Linked DNA regions of Homo sapiens. The protein of the gene in region 1 purifies or fractionates together with the protein of each later gene. This does not show direct contact. Each region holds a gene or a part of one and is shown in the gene's direction. Other genes may lie near its edges.

Region 1 (4,816 bases):
GAGCTGAACAAATGCATGAATTCTTTTATGTTTTAATTTTTGGGCTGGCATGGTGGCTCACACCTGGCGTGTTGTCCTGGACTCCCCTGCTTCTGTCCCTCACGTCAGAGATCATTGTCATCCTTGTCACTCAGTTCTTCACATTCTTCCATTCTCTGCAATTCTGGCAGTGCTTCTGGAGCCCAGGCCTGGGTTGCCGCAGCAGGCCCCCTGCTTGAGTTACACACTTTTTGAGCCAGAGGTTGTAAACGATTCCCATGGGCCTGTAAAGCAGTTTTGTTGGGTCCATCTGGTGTGAGTGTGTGTGTTTAAGATTTTAAAATAGTTTTAAAATTAGGTTTTATATAAAAGGTCCAGATTTCAGACTTTTCTTGGAAAATCAGAAGGTTTAGCTGCACAGAGTCTGCATTCTTACCTGGCAGTCATCAGCAAGCACAGGTGGCAGCTGCTCCTGAGGGAGGAGCACAGTCCCTGCAACCACTATGGTCTGCAACCCCCTGCTCAGGCCCCCTGGATGCGTTTGAGTGTACCCTCACATTTTCCACACCAGTTGTTTCTAAACTGCAACTATACATTGCATGAAAACATTCAATGACTCCTTGATACCATCAGGATAAAGCTTTAAAAATTCCATTGCACCTGAGTATGGTGGCTCATGCCTATAATCTCAGCACTTTGGGAGGCCAAGTCAGGAGGATCGCTTGAGCTCAGGAGTTTGAGATCAGCCTGGGCAACATAGTGAGACCCTGTCTCTACAAAAAAATGTAAAAGAAAAGAAAGCCAGGCGTGGTGGTGTGTACCTGTATTCCTAGCAACTGGGAGACTTCTGCTTGAGTCCAGAAGTCTGAAGCTACAGTGAGCTGTGATCATACTCCTGCACTCCAGCCTGGGTGACAGAGCAAGACCCTGTCTCTAAAAAGGATTTAAAAATTAAAAAAATTTCCATCGCATGCCATAAACCACCTGATCTCCTACCCCACGTACCTTTCCAGGCTCTTTTTTTTCTTTCTTTCTTTACCCATCTTCTTCTTTTTGGAATCTTCTCTGTGTCCTGCCAACTTCTAATCCTTCAGGTCTCACCTTAAATATTGTTTTTTCCGGAAGATCCAAGGACTGGCTTCAGTGCTCTGAGGGTGTAGGGAAAAAAACAAAGGGATTTTTCTATTCTCTTTTTTTTTTTTTTTTTTTTTTGAGACGGAGTCTTGCTCTGTCACCCAGGCTGAAGTGCAGTGGCACGATCTCAGCTCACTGCACGCTCTGCCTCCTGGGTTCACACCATTCTCCTGCCTCAGCCTCCCCAGCAGCTTGGACTACAGGCGCACACCGCCACACGCGGATAATTTTTTTGTATTTTTAGTAGAGATGGGGTTTCACCGTGTTAGCCAGGATGGTCTCAATCTCCTGACCTCGTGATCCACCCGCCTCGGCCTCCCAAAGTGCTGGGATTACAGGCGTGAGCCACCGCGCCCGGCCTGATTTTTCCATTCTCTTATGCACGGGGACTCATGCCTATGGTCCCAGCTGCTTGGGAGGATGAGGCAGGAGAATCCTTTGAGTTTGGGAGGTCAAAGCTATAGTGAGCCGCGTTCATGCCACTGCACTCCATCCTGAGCAACAGGATATCAGTAATCACGGGTCTCAACCCTGAGGCAGTAGTTTCAATTTTACTTGTCTTTCCAGCCTGAGAATAAGCTCATTGAGGGCAGGGACTGTGTCTCTCACCACAGTGTTCACAGCACCTAGTATAGGGTCTCGCTTTCATGCTCAGAACATAAATTGCAAACCAAAAAAGCCTTGATTGTAGTTTGGCTATTTGAGATGCTGCAGTGGGTCTTTTTAAAGCTATTATAACCCTAAGACTGCAAGCAATATATATTTTATTCTGCTTATGGTTTGAATTTATTAATTGGACAAATATTTTGTTATGTATCTGGGCTGTCCAGCGGTGCAGAGCACACACATTCTGTTCTCACAGCTTACTGACATTTACAGAGTTTTCATTATATTCATCCTTAGAGCAGACTAGAAGATTTGTCTTAGAAACTGTTTGTTAGAGACCTAGGTACCTTGAAATAGTCTTGTACCGTTGGATGCACTAAAAGCTCTCTCTTTATCTTGCAGGTGGTCACCATGGGCCTTTTCCGCACTATTGCTTTGTTTTACCTTGGAAGTTTTGACAGCATAGTTCGTCGCTGCATGATGCAGAGAGAAAAATCTGAAAATGCAGACAAAACTGCCTAATCTTCTTACCCCTTGGAAGAAGACTGTTTCCAAATAATTTGAACAGCTTGCTGCTAAATGGGACCCAATTTTTGGCCTATAGACACTTATGTATTGTTTTCGAATACGTCAGATTGGACCAGTGCTCTTCAGGAATGTGGCTGCAAGCAAGGGGCTAGAAGTTCACCTCCTGACAGTATTATTAATACTATGCAAATATGGAATAGGAGACCATTTGATTTTCTAGGCTTTGTGGTAGAGAGGTGAAGGTATGAGAATTAATAGCGTGTGAACAAAGTAAAGAACAGGATTCCAGAATGATCATTAAATTTGTTTCTATTTATTCTTTTTTGCCCCCCTAGAGATTAAGTCCAGAAATGTACTTTCTGGCACATAAAGAAATCTTGAGGACTTTGTTTAAACCTTCCATAAAAAAACAATTTTCGGTTTCTCGGGTTCTCTCTCTCTCTCTCTCTGTCTCTCTGTCTCTCTGTCTCTCTGTCTCTCTGTCTCTCTGTCTCTCTCTCTCTCTCTCTTTCTTTCTTTGTGTATTTTATTCAAGATGAGTTGGACCCATTGCCAGTGAGTCTGAATGTCACTGACAGCCCTGTGTTGTGCTCAGGACTCACTCTGCTGCTGGTGGAAACTCATGGCTTCTCTCTCTCTTTGATCCCATAAAGCTACGAGGGGGACGGGAGAGGGCAGTGCAATGGGAAGTAAAGAGATATTTTCCAGTAGGAAAAGCAATGCTTTCTTGTCTTTAGACTCAAATGCTTAGGGAACGTTTCATTTCTCATTCATGGGGAAAGGCAGCCTCCTTAAATGTTTTCTGAAGAGCGGTAAAATCTAGAAGCTTAAGAATTTACAGTTCCTTCAATAACCATGATGACCTGAAGTTCACCTATCCCATTTTAGCATCTACTTGTTTTTCCCATCTCTTCCTTTCCAATTTTGCTTATACTGCTGTAATATTTTTGTAAAAAAAAAAAAAAAGGAAAAAAAAGACCAGCTAAAATTTTCGACTTGACTTTTTAACTTAACTCATGAATTAATTAAAGCAAATGAAAAAATTAAAAAGTGTGACTTTTTCTCGGAGCATATATGTAGCTTTTAGGAAAGGCTGATGATGGTATAAAGTTTGCTCATTAAGAAAAAAAGACAAGGCTGATTTTGAAGAGAGTTGCTTTTGAAATAAAATGATCACCTGTTCTTTATGTGACTCTCCCACTGAACCTGCAGACATTATTTTTATACCACATGCTAAGGAAGCCCACTCATCTAACTCTGTAGCCCTGGAAACCCTCTTGGCCCCTGAATGTTGTTTCCAGGTTATAGGATCTGTGTTCATTAGTGGATTTTGACAGCAAGTGCCTCTGATGAGTTTTAGCCAACATTCCCCGTTGCATCCTGCTCATTGTTCACACTCCTCTGACTTGAGGAGAGCTGCCTTCACCTTGATCTTGTAACCTGTCTTCCTTGCATATACGGTAGCACATTCCAGATCACTTCGGTGAGAAAAGACCTCTGTTTTTGAAGAGGAAACTTTCTTAAATTGTAAAATAAAACTTAAAAAACATAAAAACTCTATACAAAAATTGAAGACCTAAAAATTATAGCATACCTTTTTTTTGCTCTTGAGTTTTTGAAGCTCTTGACTTTAAATGACTTAACTTTTTAAAAAATAAGATGTTTTATGGCTTTAACCCATGTTTTTATTAAGATCTGAGAATAGCATATTTTAAACACTGATAGATACAGAAGAAATTATTATTTAATATATAAATTGCTTGGAATGATTTCATTGCAGCTTGTAAGGATGGGTTGATGCCAGAATGGTTTCATAAATCTTTCAGTCTTACAGAGCCAAAGTTTGCAGATTATATCGAGTTGCGTTGTGCAGCTGCTAAAATGGAATCATAGCTTTTTATAATTTGCAGAAAACAATTGCATTAATGTCTGGATGTTTCTCAGTTTTATTCTTTTCTCATAAATGTTCCTCGAATGTTGGCACCTTCTACTGCTGATCTATATTAGAATCTAGTCCAAGAAAGTGTCTGATTTAATAACATTAAATAGTTATTTCAATATATTTTTTCAAATTATCCTCATAGAACCTGTTGCCTCCAGTGAGATGGTAATCTACTACCCGAATAAATTTAAGAGCACCTGTTGAGAGCCCCTGTTTTGCGGTAGAAGACAATTGTCCCTATCCCAATTTCCACTGAAATATGAGAGCAGATTTGCAGAGACCATCATGTCAGAGAAGAAATTTCCTTGTCAGAGATGTTAAAGGGCTACAGTCCCTTAGCAAAGAAACTTCGAAATCTAAGTTGGTTTGTGTTTTTCTAAATTTGATACCGTAATTCATTTGGCAGCAAAATCTGACTTGAACTGATGTGAGAGTATTGTACTTTATATTTATGCTACTTCATTGTGACTTAATTTTCCCTGAAGAAATATCCATGGATTTGATTATAGGTTTTCCCTTAGATGCTGTGGAGGTGTTTTGTAATATTCAAAATATGCCCATATTGCCTTTTTAAAACCCCAAAGATTATGAATTCTGAAACACATCCAGCCCAGCGGGTTTTGGATA
Region 2 (4,816 bases), on another chromosome or scaffold:
CAGCACTTCACTGAATAGAGTTCAGTCCCTCTTCTCCATCCCCATCCTGTTATATAAAGTCTTTTTCTTGCACAGTCATTTAGGAGGTGGGAAGTTGGGAGACAGGGAATCCTGGCCATTAGATTGGAGGGAAAGTTCCAACATGGACAACATCCTGAGGGGAGAGCGAAGAAGAAACTGAAACTCTTCTGGGCCCAGTGGCTCACACCTGTAATCCCAGCACTTTGGGAGGCTGAGGAGGGTGGATCACTTGAGGTCAGGAGTTCAACACCAGCCTGGCCAACATGGTGAAAGCCCGTCTCTATTAAAAATACAAAAATTAGCTGGGCGTGGTGGCAGGCACCTGTAATCCCAGATACTCGGGAGGCTGAGGCAAGAGAGTCGCTTGAGCCTGGGAGGCAGAGGTTGCAGTGAGCTGAGATCATGCCACTGTACTCCAGCCTGGGCAACAGACAGAGTGAGACTCTGTCTCAAAAAAAAAGAAAAAAAACTGAAACTCTTTTGTGCATCACTCTTTTCTTCCACATAAACTTTCTTAAAAATCAAATATGGGGATATGGCCCACAGCTCTGAGTAGCTTCATCCATCTGTATGGCCCCAGCTGGGCACAGCAGTAAGGCCAACTGAAACGACGTTTGCCCTGAATTTCTCGGTCACTTGACAACATGTATCTAATTGATACATAATATTTGAGCCCTGATATAATAGAATTTAATTGCACAGTTACATGGAAACAGACTTGACGTTTCTGAGAAGACTGATGTCCTGGCGTGGTGGGGGTGGTTGGTTTCTAGGAAGAAGACAAGTGGTTGGTGGTGAATGCTGGCAGGGGCTGGTGAAGTCTCCCCAGGAGGGAGACAGAATCCATGTCTCTTTAGAGGCCCTTCAGGATCAGCCCTTTTATACCAGATCTGCTGGTTTGAGAGCCCAGAGCCTCAGAGGTTAGATCTGAGGCCCAAGGTTTTGGCCAGGATTAGAGAGTAGCCTGTGAGGCAGAGGGCAACTGGCAGAGCTGTTGGTGTAAGAGGGTGCACGCCTGAAGCTTTGGGGTGTAAAGGGTAGACCAGAGGCAGGACAGTCAAGGAGTTATGGTCTGGAGTGGCAGCTGGCTGGGAATTGGGGAGTGTTTCAGATCCTTTCAAGTAATGTGGTCTGGTAGAGCTTGGAGGATTGGTGGGACCATGCCTTTTTCTCACTGGTTTGTGTCCTGGTTCCTTCCCAGAGCCTGGCAGAGAGCAGGTGTGTGATACACGTCGTCAGGTGACTGACCGAGGAATTCAGGGCAAACAGATCATCTCAATTTGCCTTGCTGATGTGCCAGCTGGGATTACGCTGATGGATGAAGCTCTTCAGAGCTATGGGCAATATCTACATATTTGATTGTCAAGAAACTTCGTGTGGAAATAGCTTCAAACTTACACAAATTGCAAGAATAAAAAATAGTATAAGGATATTCGTACACACTCTCTTTACTCAGATTCACCTGTTAATATTTTGCTCCATTTGCTCTCTATGTGTGCAGAGTATGTTTTTGTTCTGAACCATTTGAGAAGTTGCATCTATCCTGGTCCTCTACTTCTCAATACTTCAGTGTGTATTACCTAAGAATTGGAATTAATCAGTTATCACTGATACTTTAACCTACTGTCCATATTCCACCTTTGTCATTTTACCCAATAACGTCTTTTTAAAAAAAGTTTTTTGAGGTTTCATTGACATACAATTGATATCAATATGTGCAAAGAACTGCATATAAAGTGTACAATTTGATAAGTTTTGACATATATGTGTGTGTGTGTATATATATATATATATATATACCTGTAAAAGTATCACCACAATCAAGATAATAAACATATCCACCCTTCTAGAAGCTTCCTAATGCCCCTGTGTAGTAACTACCCTACTGCCCTTCTCTGCCTCCATCCCCAGGCAACAACTGATCTGCTTTCTGTAATATAGATTAGTTTCTATTTTCGGCAGTTTTATGTCAATGGAATCACAGTGTATGTGCTCTTTTTTGTTTTTCCCAAAAAGACCCATATTGTGTAATTATTTGGAGATTGTGTTGTGTATGTCAGTGGTTTATTCAGTTTTATTGCTGAATATTATTCCATTCTATGAGTAAACCACAATTTGTTTATCTGTATTTCCCTGTTGATGGGCCTTTGGGTTATTTCCAGTTTTGAGTGATTATGAATAAAGTTACCATCAACACTCCTGTGTAGGTTTTTGTAGGGACATGGCTGAAAGTAGAAAGAAATGGGGCATGCAGGAGAGACTGGGCTTGGTTATAACAGCCTGTTATCCCTGGGGAACTAGCTCACTCACCAGAGGACGTTAGGAAGGATCTGCCCCTGCCCCCCTTGTGATCCAAACACCTACCACTAGACCCCACCTCCGGCAGCACCACCACACAGGGGATCAAATCCCAACATGTGTTTCAGAGAACAAACCATATTCAAGCTATAGCATAGCTACGTAATTATTATAACACTATTAATAAGACCATCTTTGCCTTGGGAATTTTAAGTAGCACCTTTATTACATATTAGATTTTTTTGTGTAATGAGTCTGTTTCTGGAGCTTAAATTCTATTTCACTGGATGGTCTGTTTATTTATGTACCAGTACCACGCAGTTGTAATTATGGAGGTTTTGTAGTATGCCATATATATATATATATAATAAAAAAAAATTTTTTTGAGACAGAGTCTCACTCTCTTGCCCAGGCTGGAGTGCAATGGCACAATCCAATCACAGCTCACTACAGCCTCAGCCTCCCAGACTCAGGTGATCCCATCTCAGCCTCCTGAGTAGCTGGGACCACAGGTGCGTGCCACCATGCCCAGCTTTTTTTTTTTTTTTTTTTAATTGTTACTTGTAGAGACAGGGTCTCCGTGTGCTGCCCAGGCTATTCTTGAACTCCTGGGCTCAAGTGATCCTCCTGTATTGGCCTCCCAAAGTGCTGGGATTGCAGGTAGGAGCTACTGCATCTGGCCAGTATGCAGTATTTTCATATCTGGTAGGGCTGAGTCCCTCCTCACAGCTTATTTTTATTGTTTTCCTAGTTTTTCATGTGAACTTTACTGTCAGTTCGTCTAGCTCCATAAAAAGGTATTTTTATTGGGATTTTTGATGATGCTGAAATGTCCTGACCAAGAACAAGGGATATTCAGATGTTCTTTTGTGTCTTTCAGGAATGATAGTTTTGTTCACATAAGTTTTGAATGTTTAAGTTTATTTAAGTTTATTTCTAAATATTTTCTCATTTCTCTGGCTTTTGTAAGTAGGGTTTTCTCATCCATGTTTTCTTCTCATGAGTTATTTGTGGATATGAAGGCTATCCATTAGTATATGTTGATTTTTATATTACACTTCCTTGCTCAGTTCATTATTGATTCTTTTTGAGTTTTCCAGGCATATTCTCACAAGTAAAGATAATAGAAATAGTTTGCTTCCTTTCCACTTCTGCTTTGAATTTTTTTTTCTTGGTTCATTTGCATTGGCTGCTTCCTCCAGCAAAATGTTAAATAACCCTGGAGATGATGGGCAACTTCGTTTTGCTCCTGACATTCGTGGGGTGCCTCTGGTGCTTCCCTGTTGGTAAGGGGTTAACTGTAGCCCTGAGGTGGGACATTTGATTTTAAAAATCAGTCATCTTGGGGCGCTTAGGTTAGAGGAATGGTAGGCAGATGCTGTCACTCCTTGCCCCTCCCCTCCTCCTTCCCACCTGGAGGGGAAATGAAATCTGACAGGTAGAAAGAGGGGAGTTGGGGTTCTTTTTCTCTCTCCCTCCACCAGCATCACTCTCTGCCTCTCCCTCAAAAATACGTTCCTGGGTCAGGATATATGTTGACTCCCTAGAGAGCTCTGGAGTCAACCTCCTGGCCTTCCTCCACCCTCACTCTTGGCCTTTTCCTGCCCCCATTTCCTCTACCTGTGGGGCATGGAGCCACGAGCCTTTGTGTGACGGTTTGCTTTCTCTCTCCTGTCTTTAGGTGCATGGCTGCCTCCTAATCCCATAGTCCAGAGGAGGCATCCCTAGGACTGCGGGCAAGGGAGCCGGGCAAGCCCAGGGCAGCCTTGAACCGTCCCCTGGCCTGCCCTCCCCGGTGGGGGCCAGGATGCTGAAGAAGCAGTCTGCAGGGCTTGTGCTGTGGGGCGCTATCCTCTTTGTGGCCTGGAATGCCCTGCTGCTCCTCTTCTTCTGGACGCGCCCAGCACCTGGCAGGCCACCCTCAGTCAGCGCTCTCGATGGCGACCCCGCCAGCCTCACCCGGGAAGTGATTCGCCTGGCCCAAGACGCCGAGGTGGAGCTGGAGCGGCAGCGTGGGCTGCTGCAGCAGATCGGGGATGCCCTGTCGAGCCAGCGGGGGAGGGTGCCCACCGCGGCCCCTCCCGCCCAGCCGCGTGTGCCTGTGACCCCCGCGCCGGCGGTGATTCCCATCCTGGTCATCGCCTGTGACCGCAGCACTGTTCGGCGCTGCCTGGACAAGCTGCTGCATTATCGGCCCTCGGCTGAGCTCTTCCCCATCATCGTTAGCCAGGACTGCGGGCACGAGGAGACGGCCCAGGCCATCGCCTCCTACGGCAGCGCGGTCACGCACATCCGGCAGCCCGACCTGAGCAGCATTGCGGTGCCGCCGGACCACCGCAAGTTCCAGGGCTACTACAAGATCGCGCGCCACTACCGCTGGGCGCTGGGCCAGGTCTTCCGGCAGTTTCGCTTCCCCGCGGCCGTGGTGGTGGAGGATGACCTGGAGGTGGCCCCGGACTTCTTCGAGTACTTTCGGGCCACCTATCCGCTGCTGAAG
Region 3 (4,816 bases), on another chromosome or scaffold:
TGGTGTTCATGAGAGATACTGTTCTGTAATTTTTTTTCTTACTATATCTTTCTCTGGTTTGATATCCAGATAATACTAACTTTATAGAAAGAAGTAGTCCCTCTAGGTTTTTTTGCCCAGTGTGGCTACAATAGGGGTTGGCAAACTATGGCTCATGGGTCACATCCTACCAACCACCTCTTTTTTTCATGGCCAGCAAGCTAAGAATGATTTTCCATTTTTAAGTTGTTACATTTTAAGTGTCATACACACACACACACGCGCGCGCGCGCGCGCGCGCGCGCGCACACACACACACACACACACACACACACACACACACACACACACACACACACACACACACACACACACACACACACACCCCCCAAGTAATAGCCTTGATTTTGCTTGTTGGCCTATAAAACCGAAAATATTTATTAGGAAAAAGTCTGCCAGTTTAATTGATTTTCTTTCTTTTTTTTTTAAAGAACCAGATTTTAGTTTTCATTGGTTTTTATCTATTTTTCTTTTTCTCCATTTCATTGATCGTCTCTCTGATCTTTATTACTTCGTTTCTTCCACTTAATTGGAGTTTCATTTGCTCTTTTTTTCTTAGTTTCTTAGGGTAGACGCTACAATATATAATCTGCAGTAAATCTCATTCTTTATATTTTTCATTTCAGACATTATAGTTTTCATCTGTAGTAGTTCAACTTGGGTATCTATTAAAATTTTTTCTTTCTTTCTTTCTTTTTTCTGAGATGGAGTCTCACTCTGCCACCCCGGCTGGAGTTCAAAGGCGTGATCTCGACTCACTGCAACCTCTGCCTCTTGGGTTCAAGCAGTTCTCCTGCCTCAGCCTCCTGAGTAGCTGGGATTACAGACGTCTGCCACCATGCCTGGCTAATTTTTGTATTTTTCATAGAGACAGTATTTCACCATGTTGGCCAGGCTGGTCTTGAACTCCTGACCTCAGGTGATCTGCCTGCCTCAGCCTCCCAAAGTGCTGGGATTACAGGCGTGAGCCACCGCACCTGGCCTATTAAAATTTTAACATCTTTTTTATATCTTCCCTGTCTCTAACTTTTGAACATATGAAATACAGTCATAATAACTGTTATTTCTATGGTGATTCTAACATCTGTGTCAGTTTTGAGTTGGTTTTGATAGATTGATTTCACTCTTCTTTATGGGTTGTCTTTTCTTGTTTTTTTGCAAGCCTGGTAACTTTTGTGGATTCCAGACATGAATTTTACCTTGTTTGTTACTAGAAGGTCTTGTATAATTTACAAATATTCTTAAATTTTGTTCTGGGATGTAGTTATGTTATTTTAAAATAATTTGATCCTATTTTGTCTTTTAATAATTGTTAAGTGGGACCTAAGCAATGTTTGGTCTGGGGCACATTTTCCTGCTATTGAGGCCAAATCCTTCTGAGCATTTTACCCAGCATCCCATGAATTACGGTTTTCTAGTCTGGCTGATAGGATCAGGAACTGTTTCTACCTAATCTGTATGAATGCCAGGTACTACTTCCTCTAATCCTTTTAGAGAGTTCTTTCCCCAGCCTGAGTAGTTCCTTATGTGTGTGTGCTGATGAGTACTCTGCTAATTCCAAAATGGTACCTTTGCAGATTTCTGGAATTCTCTGTCCTCTACAGTTCTCTCTTATTCAAACTCTGTCTTGGTCTTTTTAGACTCTTAGCTCCATTTCTTCAACTCAGTGAATGTACTGGCTCCATCTGCATTTCCCCTCCATACACTGTGGTCTGGAAACTCTCTGAATGCAGTAAGCTGGGACAGTCACAGGGCTATCATCATTTGTTTTCCTTCTCTGGTGATCACTGCCCTTTGTTGCCTGATTGCAATTTTATTAGATCATTGTTTAATACATCTAACCTGGATTTTGAGTTGTTTCAGGCAGGATGGTAAATGTCTTGGCTAGAAGTGGAAGTCTTATATATCTGTATCTTTGGCATGGTGAATGTAAGAAAGCATTCTGTTCCCTAAGTATTCAGAAAAGAGACTGTTCGTGCATATTGACTCTTTTCTGGATGGAGTTTGGAAAGAATAGTTCTCCTGTATTTTTTTTTTAGAGTGATTTTTCCAGTAATTTTCTTTTCCAGTTTTTTTTTTCACAGTTGGATTAGATTATTAGGCAATATGGATTACTAATTCCATTATGTTTTATTAGAATTAGATTGGAACTCTTTGTGGAAAGCTACTGAAAAGATCACATGCTATTTTTTTCATGGCTGTTTTGCCTCTGATGTTTATTCCACCAATATTTGAAGAAAGAGATAAAAAGGAGAACCTAGACATAATCTTTCTATTGTCAATTTTTCTATCACTAACATATGTTCTGAAAAAGGACATTCCTGTCCTATAGTATATTGCTGCCAAAATAAATCCCAAGAGATTGAAGTTTTATTCTATTTTCAAATTGTTTCCTAGAAACCAGCCACCTAATTCACAAAGAGATTAAGAGCCAAGTCTTAGAAACATAACTTTAAAAAACTATATACCAGGACATGCCTCATTTGTGAATGTATGCGTGCTCATAAATTGGGTAATTGTGCACCTAACTACTGTATTCATTTTTTATTATTCGCTTTGTGCTTATACAAATGAAGGCTTTTTCATTCATATTCTGTAGCCTTGGACACTCATGATTGGAGGATAGTTACTTTTTATGCTCCTGTTCAATGTTAATGCGTACAATTTTACAGGAAATTATAAAATGTCTCCAATTACTTTGGTATAGCTGTAACAATAGCTACTTTATTAAACGTGTTCTGAAGTAGTGTAGGTAATTGACAGTTAATTTGGCTTTATCAGGTTATATAGAAAATGTTAGAGAAGCTATAAAAAACCTTTCGTATCAGAGTGTTTGCCTCAAAAGGCTATGTTGGCTGGGCGCCGTGGCTCATACCTGTAATTCAGCACTTTGGGAGGTTGAGGTGGGCGGATCACTTGAGGCCAGGAGTTTTAGACCAGCCTGGCCAACCCAATGAAACCCCGTCTCTACTAAAAATGTAAAAAAATTAGCCAGGGATGGTGGTGCATTCCCGTAATCCCATCTGCTCAGGAGGCCGAGGCACGAGAATCATTTGAATCTGGGAGGCAGTGGTTGTGGCAAGCCAAGATCCCATCACTGTACTCCAGCCTGGGTGACAAATCGAGACTGTGTCAAAAAAAAAAAAAAAAGACTGTGTTGACATCTGAATTTAAGTTCTGCCAACTATAATTTAAAACTTAAGTTCCCTTAAACTGGTCATGATGGTAAGAATAGATAGCCCAGACTTTTTGAGATTACAGCTCATCTCTAAAATGACAAAGCTCAGATATAATAGTAGCCTTCATAAAATTTATTGCCAGACACTGCTAAGTACTTTTACAGACATTTCCTCATTTAAATAGACTTTGAAAGAAAAATCAGCTATTTAATCTTTAGGACAATTTTGTAAAAGGATCAATATATGTACGTATTAATTTCCTATTGCTGCTTTGACAAATACCACAAACTTTATGGCTTAAAACAACATAAATTTATTCTCTTAAGAGTTTTGGAGGCCAGAGATCTGAATTGAGTTTCACTGCACTGAAACCAAGATGTCAGGAGGGCTGGATTCCCTAGAGAAGCTCTAGGAGAGCATCTGGGGTATTTTTGTTTGTTCGTTCGTTTGCCTTTTCCAGTTTCTAAAAATGTCTTCCTTGCTCATGGTTGCTTCTTCCATCTTCAAAGCTAACAGCCACATAACCTTTTCCTCTTCTGTAGTAAAATCTTCTTCTACCTTCCTCTTATGAAGACACTTGTTATTACAAAATGGCTCACCTAGATAATCCAATCTCAAAATCCTTAATTATATATTCAGAGTTTCTTTTGCCATAAAGAGTAATATTCACAGATTTCATGATTAGGTTATGGATATCTTTGGGAGACCTTTGTTTAGCCTACCACGAAATTGTATTATGTACATCAAAGTGGAGTACAGTATACTGCCATAAGTCACATAAAAACAAAACAGGAACAAGCACAGTTTGGAATTAAGTTGAACAGAGAGGTTGATAATATAAGTAAGAGATCTTGGATTGCTGTTCTGTGTTCCAGCTTTTATATTATTGACTGATTGTTTTTGTTGCTGATAGAAATGAATAGAACAATGATCTTCAATTTTTTATTTTTATTTTTTCGAGACAGGGTTTCACTCTGCTGCCTACACTAGAATGCAGTGACATGATCATAGTTCATTGTAATCTTGAACTATGGTTCAAGGATGGTTCAAGCCATCCTCCTTCCTTAGCTTCCTGAGTAGCTGGGACTGCAGGCACACACCACCATGTGCCCAGCTAATGTTTTCATTTTTGTAATGATGGGGGATTGCTGTGTTGCCCAGGCTGGCCATGAACTCCTGGGCTCAAGTAATCCTCCTACCTGGGCCTCCCAAAGTGCTGGGATTATAGGCATGAGTGGCTACACCTGGCCCAATTTTTTTCTAATATGTTTTATCTTCTACTCTTGTCTTTCTTTTTTCTATATAAGACCAATGCTTAGTAGTCTAATGTCATGAATTGAAAGACAGATTTACATAGTCTGATATTATAATTAATTTAGAAATACATTATATTTGATGTTTGAGCATGTCCTTAGACACATGTTCAGATATGCTTCGTTATTCCCTTTAAGCCTTTTCTTTACTTTTTCCTTCACTTTTGTTACTCTCAATGCTAATGAATAATTGACCTCTTTGCCACTGATCATGGTACTCTGGGGATGAAAGATTTTTAGGAAACAGCTCTAGAGGTTTGTTAACTCCTAGAAGATCATAGATTT
Region 4 (4,816 bases), on another chromosome or scaffold:
ACAACGAATTTTGGTACTTCATTTTTAAAAAAATCATTTTAAGCTTTACAATTTTTTAAAGAATGATTGCAGTGTGTTCTCAGCCTAACAGAGTAACATAATTTATCCTAAGTTCAATGCCTTAGGAGAGACTTCACCAATGTTAATGCTAGCTGTCATTTATTGAGCACCTACTATGTAACAGGTACTGTGCTGAGTGTTTTACAAATATTTATTATTTCATCCCATGTAAAATGTACTATTATTATTCCCTCTTTGTAGATGAAGAAAGTGAGGCTAAAAGAGTTAAGTGACCTGTCTAGATGGGGTCACTATTTCAACCCGGGCAACTTTGACTCCAGAGCCTGAACTGTTGGTCATTATACCATACTGCCACTGCTACCAAAATCCAAAATTAATTTTGTTACTTGTTTTAACAAGTGTTATTGTGAGCCTTGAATGGAGTATATCCCATCATGTTTTATTATCTGAATGAATTATATTTTAAATACAAATCTTAAACCATTAAATCTTAAGGCAGACCTTACACTTAGTTTGTTTATGCTAACTGGTGCAAAGAGCTCCATTTTTGAATTACCAAAACCTGGGTTTGTCTTCTGAATCTGCCACCTAAGATACTCAGCATAGTGTAATGGAAAAGAGTACACAGCTTTGGAGTCAGACAGACCTGGTTTGAGTCCAGGTGCTGCCATTTATTAGCTACGTAACTTTGTGCAATTCACTTATCTTTAAAATGCGGACAAAAATAGTATCCACCTCATCTGTTAAAATTATTTTATATATAGGTATATTAGTTACATAGTAGATGTTACTGGTTTATCTAACTGAAATGATCATTTTAAAGAATAGTCAACTAGAAAAGCAAAGTATTATTCAGAAATGGACTAATATTAAACGAATTTTCTCTTGTAGCATCCCATATCAAGATGGATTGCCCGTAATTTCTATGATAGTCCTGAAAAGATATATGAAAGAACAATGGCCGTCCTTCAGATTGAAGCTGAAAAGGCTGAATTACGGTAGGAAAAACGAGGGGGTAGGTGGGAAAGAAAATCTTCCTAAGGTAGCAAACCACCAGAAAAAATTAATAAAACTATGAATATTTCAGCACTATAGGATACTTTATGTAAAAGGATAAAGATACGTCCAGATGCAGTGGCTCACACCTGTAATCCCAGCACTTTGGGAGGCTACAGAAATTAGCCGGGCGTGGTGGTACGTGCCTGTAATCCCAGCTACTCAAGAGGCTGAGGCAGAAGAATCACTTCAACCTAGGAGGCAGAGGTTGCAGTGAGCCAAGACCATGCCACTGCACTGCAGCCTGGGTGGCAGTGTGAGACTCCGTCTCCAAAGGAAAAAAAAAATGGATAAAGATAGAATTAGCTTGTTTGGAGTGAAAACTATAAACTGGTGACAAGGAGACTATTAGGAGATATGTGTCAGATTAAAGAGTTCTTTTTTAAATTTTTGAATTTTTTTTTAGAGTGGAAGTCTTGCTCTGTTGCCCCAGCTGGGAAGCAGATGGATGGGTATATCCATCCAGTGAAATATATAATGTGGCCATTAAAAAGAAAGGGATATATGCTGTTATGGAAAGCTATGTGGATTTTCTTTCTTATACATTATATTTTATATACATATTAAAAAGCTAGACACATATATTTTTTCCCCTCTCTTATGGTGCTGAGTGCCTGTTTTTTTTTTTTTTTTTTTAATTATACTTTAAGTTTTAGGGTACATGTGCACAACATGCAGGTTAGTTATGTATACATGTGCCGTGTTGGTGTGCTGCACCCATTAACTCATTATTTAACATTAGGTATATCTCCTAATGCTATCCCTCCCCCCTCCACCCACCCCACAACAGGCCCCAGTGTGTGATGTTCCCCTTCCTGTGTCCATGTGTTCTCATTGTTCAATTCCCACCTATGACTGAGAACATGCAGTGTTTGGTTTTTTGTCCTTGCGATAGTTTGCTAAGAATGATGGTTTCCAGCTTCATCCATGTCCCTACAAAGGACATGAACTCATCATTTTTTATGGCTGCATAGTATTCCATGGTGTGTATGTGCCACATTTTCTTAATCCAGTCTATCACTGTTGGACATTTGGCTTGTCCAAGTCTTTGCTATTGTGAATAGTGCCACAGTAAACATATGTGTGCATGTGTCTTTATAGCAGCATGATTTATAATCCTTTGGGTATATACCCAGTAATGGGATTGCTGGGTCAAATGGTATTTCTAGTTCTAGATCCCTGAGGAATCGCCACACTGACTTCCACAATGATTGAACTAGTTTACAGTCCCACCAACAGTGTAAAAGTGTTCCTATTTCTCCACATCCTCTCCAGCACCTGTTGTTTCCTGACTTTTTAATGATCACCATTCTAACTGGTGTGAGATGGTATCTCATTGTGGTTTTGATTTGCATTTCTCTGATGGCCAGTGATATGAATATTTTTTCATGTGTCTTTTGGCTGCATAAATGTCTTCTTTTGAGAAGTGTCTGTTCATATCCTTTGCCCACTTTTTGATGGGGTTGTTTGTTTTTTTCTTGTAAATTTGTTTGAGTTCATTGTAGATTCTGGATATTAGCCCTTTGTCACATGAGTATATTGCAAAAATTTTTTCCCATTCTGTAGGTTGCCTGTTCACTCTGATGGTAGTTTCTTTTGCTGTGCAGAGCTCTTTAGTTTAATTAGATCCCATTTGTCAATTTTGGCTTTTGTTGCCATTGCCTTTGGTGTTTTAGACATGAAGTCCTTGCCCATGCCTATATCCTGAATGGTATTGCCTAGGTTTTCTTCTGGGGTTTTTATGGTTTTAGGTCTAACATTTAGGTCTTTAATCCATCTTGAATTAATTTTTGTATAAGGTGTAAGGAAGGGATCCAGTTTCAGCTTTCTACATATGGCTAGCCAGTTTCCCAGCACCATTTATTAAATAGGGAATCCTTTCCCCATTTCTTGTTTTCGTCAAGTTTGTCAAAGATCAGATAGTTGTAGATATGCGGCATTATTTCTGAGGGCTCTGTTCTGTTCCATTAGTCTATATCTCTGTTTTGGTACCAGTACCATGCTGTTTTGGTTACTGTAGCCTTGTAGTATAGTTTGAAGTCAGGTAGCGTGATGCCTCCAGCTTTGTTCTTTTGGCTTAGGATTGACTTGGAGTGCCTGTGTTTTTTTAACCAGTCCCCTATTGCTGGTACTTGGGTTCTTTCCAAGTTTTTTGCTATTGTACATACTGCTGTGTTTAATTTTCCCCCATATTGTTTGCATATTTATGTAACATATCTGGAAAATAAATTTCTGGAAGTGGCATTAATAAGCCAAATAGCACATGCTTTTAAACTTTGGGTAGATATTGCCAAACTCTTCTCCAAAAAGTTGCACCAGTTGTTTCTTCATCAGTTTCCATGTTTCAGTTTTCCATGTTTCTCTGTAATGGAATTTATCAAAGTGAAACATTTTTGTTGATAGGGTAATTGAAAAATGTTACCTCATCATTTCAATTTTATATTTCTTTGTAAAGTTGAGTAGTTTTTTTAATATCTATTAATTGTGTGTATTTCTTTTCTTTCTTCCCCCCGCCCGAGACAAAGTCTTGCTCTGTTGCCCAGGCTGGAGTACAGTGGCATGATCTTGACTCACTGCAGCCTTGGTCTCCTGGGTTCAAGCTGTCCTCCCACCCAAGCCTCCCTAGTAGCCAAGATTACAGGTGCATGACACCATGCCCAGTTAATTTTTGTATTTTTTGTAAAGACATAGTTTCACCGTGTTGCCTAGGCTGCTCTCAAACACCTGGGTTCAAGCGATCCACCCTCTGGGCCTCCCAAAATGCTGAGATTACAGGCGTGAGCCACTGCACCTGGCTATGTGTATTTCTTTCTCTATATATTGTCTTTTGGCAGTGTAGAAATTTTTGCAACACAGAAGTGTTTTTACATTTTCAGGTAACAAATCTGTAATAGTAACTAATAATATTTTCTTTTTCTTTTTTTTTTTTTTTTGAGACAGTTTTGCTCTGTCTCCCAGGCTGGAGTACAGTGGCGTGGTCTCGGCACACTGCAACCTCTGCTTTCCGGGTTCAAGCGATTCTGCCTCAGCCTCCCGAGTAGCTGGGATTACAGGCGCCCGCCACCACACCCCGCAAATTTTTGTATTTTTAGTAGAGACCGGGTTTTGCCAGGCTGGTCTTGAACTCCTGGCCTCAAGTGATCTGCCTGCCTCAGCCTCCCAAAGTGCTGGGATTACATACGTGAGCCACCATACCTGGCCGCTAATAAATTTTTGAGTACATTTAATATCAGTGTTTTAATTACTTTCTATGTATTTACTCATTTATAATTATTGTCAGGTTTGACAGTCTTTAGCTTTTGGGATTTTGTGTCATACAGAGATCTCTGATGATAATTAAATCAGTAAATATGTAATTCCAAAATTATTTTTTTTAATATTCACCATGTCTTCCTTTTCTTTTTTTGAGACAGGATCTCGTTCTGTTGCCTCAGCTGGAGTGCAGTGTTGCAGTCATGGCTCACTGCAGCCCCGACCTCCTGGGCTTAAGCAGTCCTCCAGCCTCAGCCTCCTGAGTAGCTGGGACCACAGGTGCTGGCCACCATGCCCAACTAATTGTTTAGGGGGGTTTTTTTGTTTGTTTGTTTGTTTTGGTAGAGATGGGATCTTGCTCTGTTGGCCAGGCTGATCTCGAACTCCTGGGCTCAAGCAGTCTTCCTGCCTTGGCCTCCCATAGTGCTGGGATTACAGGCATGAGTCAGCTTGCCCAGCCTGTTTTTGTCTTTTGTTTTGTTTTTGT

What was found. Proteins that work in one complex are often made in the same cells at the same time.
Region 2: the proteins of KDSR (region 1) and MGAT1 purify together in Homo sapiens (affinity purification with mass spectrometry; one large-scale study listed by BioGRID and IntAct). This does not show direct contact.
Region 3: the proteins of KDSR (region 1) and FUT8 purify together in Homo sapiens (affinity purification with mass spectrometry; one large-scale study listed by BioGRID and IntAct). This does not show direct contact.
Region 4: the proteins of KDSR (region 1) and NDUFB5 purify together in Homo sapiens (affinity purification with mass spectrometry; one large-scale study listed by BioGRID and IntAct). This does not show direct contact.

What each region holds. Positions count from the first base shown.
Region 1 is NC_000018.10:63,329,207-63,334,022, reverse strand, and holds part of KDSR (3-ketodihydrosphingosine reductase), read left to right. Parts: intron 1-2,121; coding exon 2,122-2,241; 3' UTR 2,242-4,816.
Region 2 is NC_000005.10:180,792,282-180,797,097, reverse strand, and holds part of MGAT1 (alpha-1,3-mannosyl-glycoprotein 2-beta-N-acetylglucosaminyltransferase), read left to right. Parts: intron 1-1,222; exon of another isoform or gene 1,223-2,217; intron 2,218-2,731; exon of another isoform or gene 2,732-2,831; intron 2,832-4,000; 5' UTR 4,001-4,126; coding exon 4,127-4,816. UniProt on the Homo sapiens protein: Initiates complex N-linked carbohydrate formation. Essential for the conversion of high-mannose to hybrid and complex N-glycans.
Region 3 is NC_000014.9:65,610,939-65,615,754, forward strand, and holds part of FUT8 (alpha-(1,6)-fucosyltransferase), read left to right. Parts: intron 1-4,816. UniProt on the Homo sapiens protein: Catalyzes the addition of fucose in alpha 1-6 linkage to the first GlcNAc residue, next to the peptide chains in N-glycans.
Region 4 is NC_000003.12:179,617,503-179,622,318, forward strand, and holds part of NDUFB5 (NADH dehydrogenase [ubiquinone] 1 beta subcomplex subunit 5, mitochondrial isoform 1 precursor), read left to right. Parts: intron 1-912; coding exon 913-1,019; intron 1,020-4,816.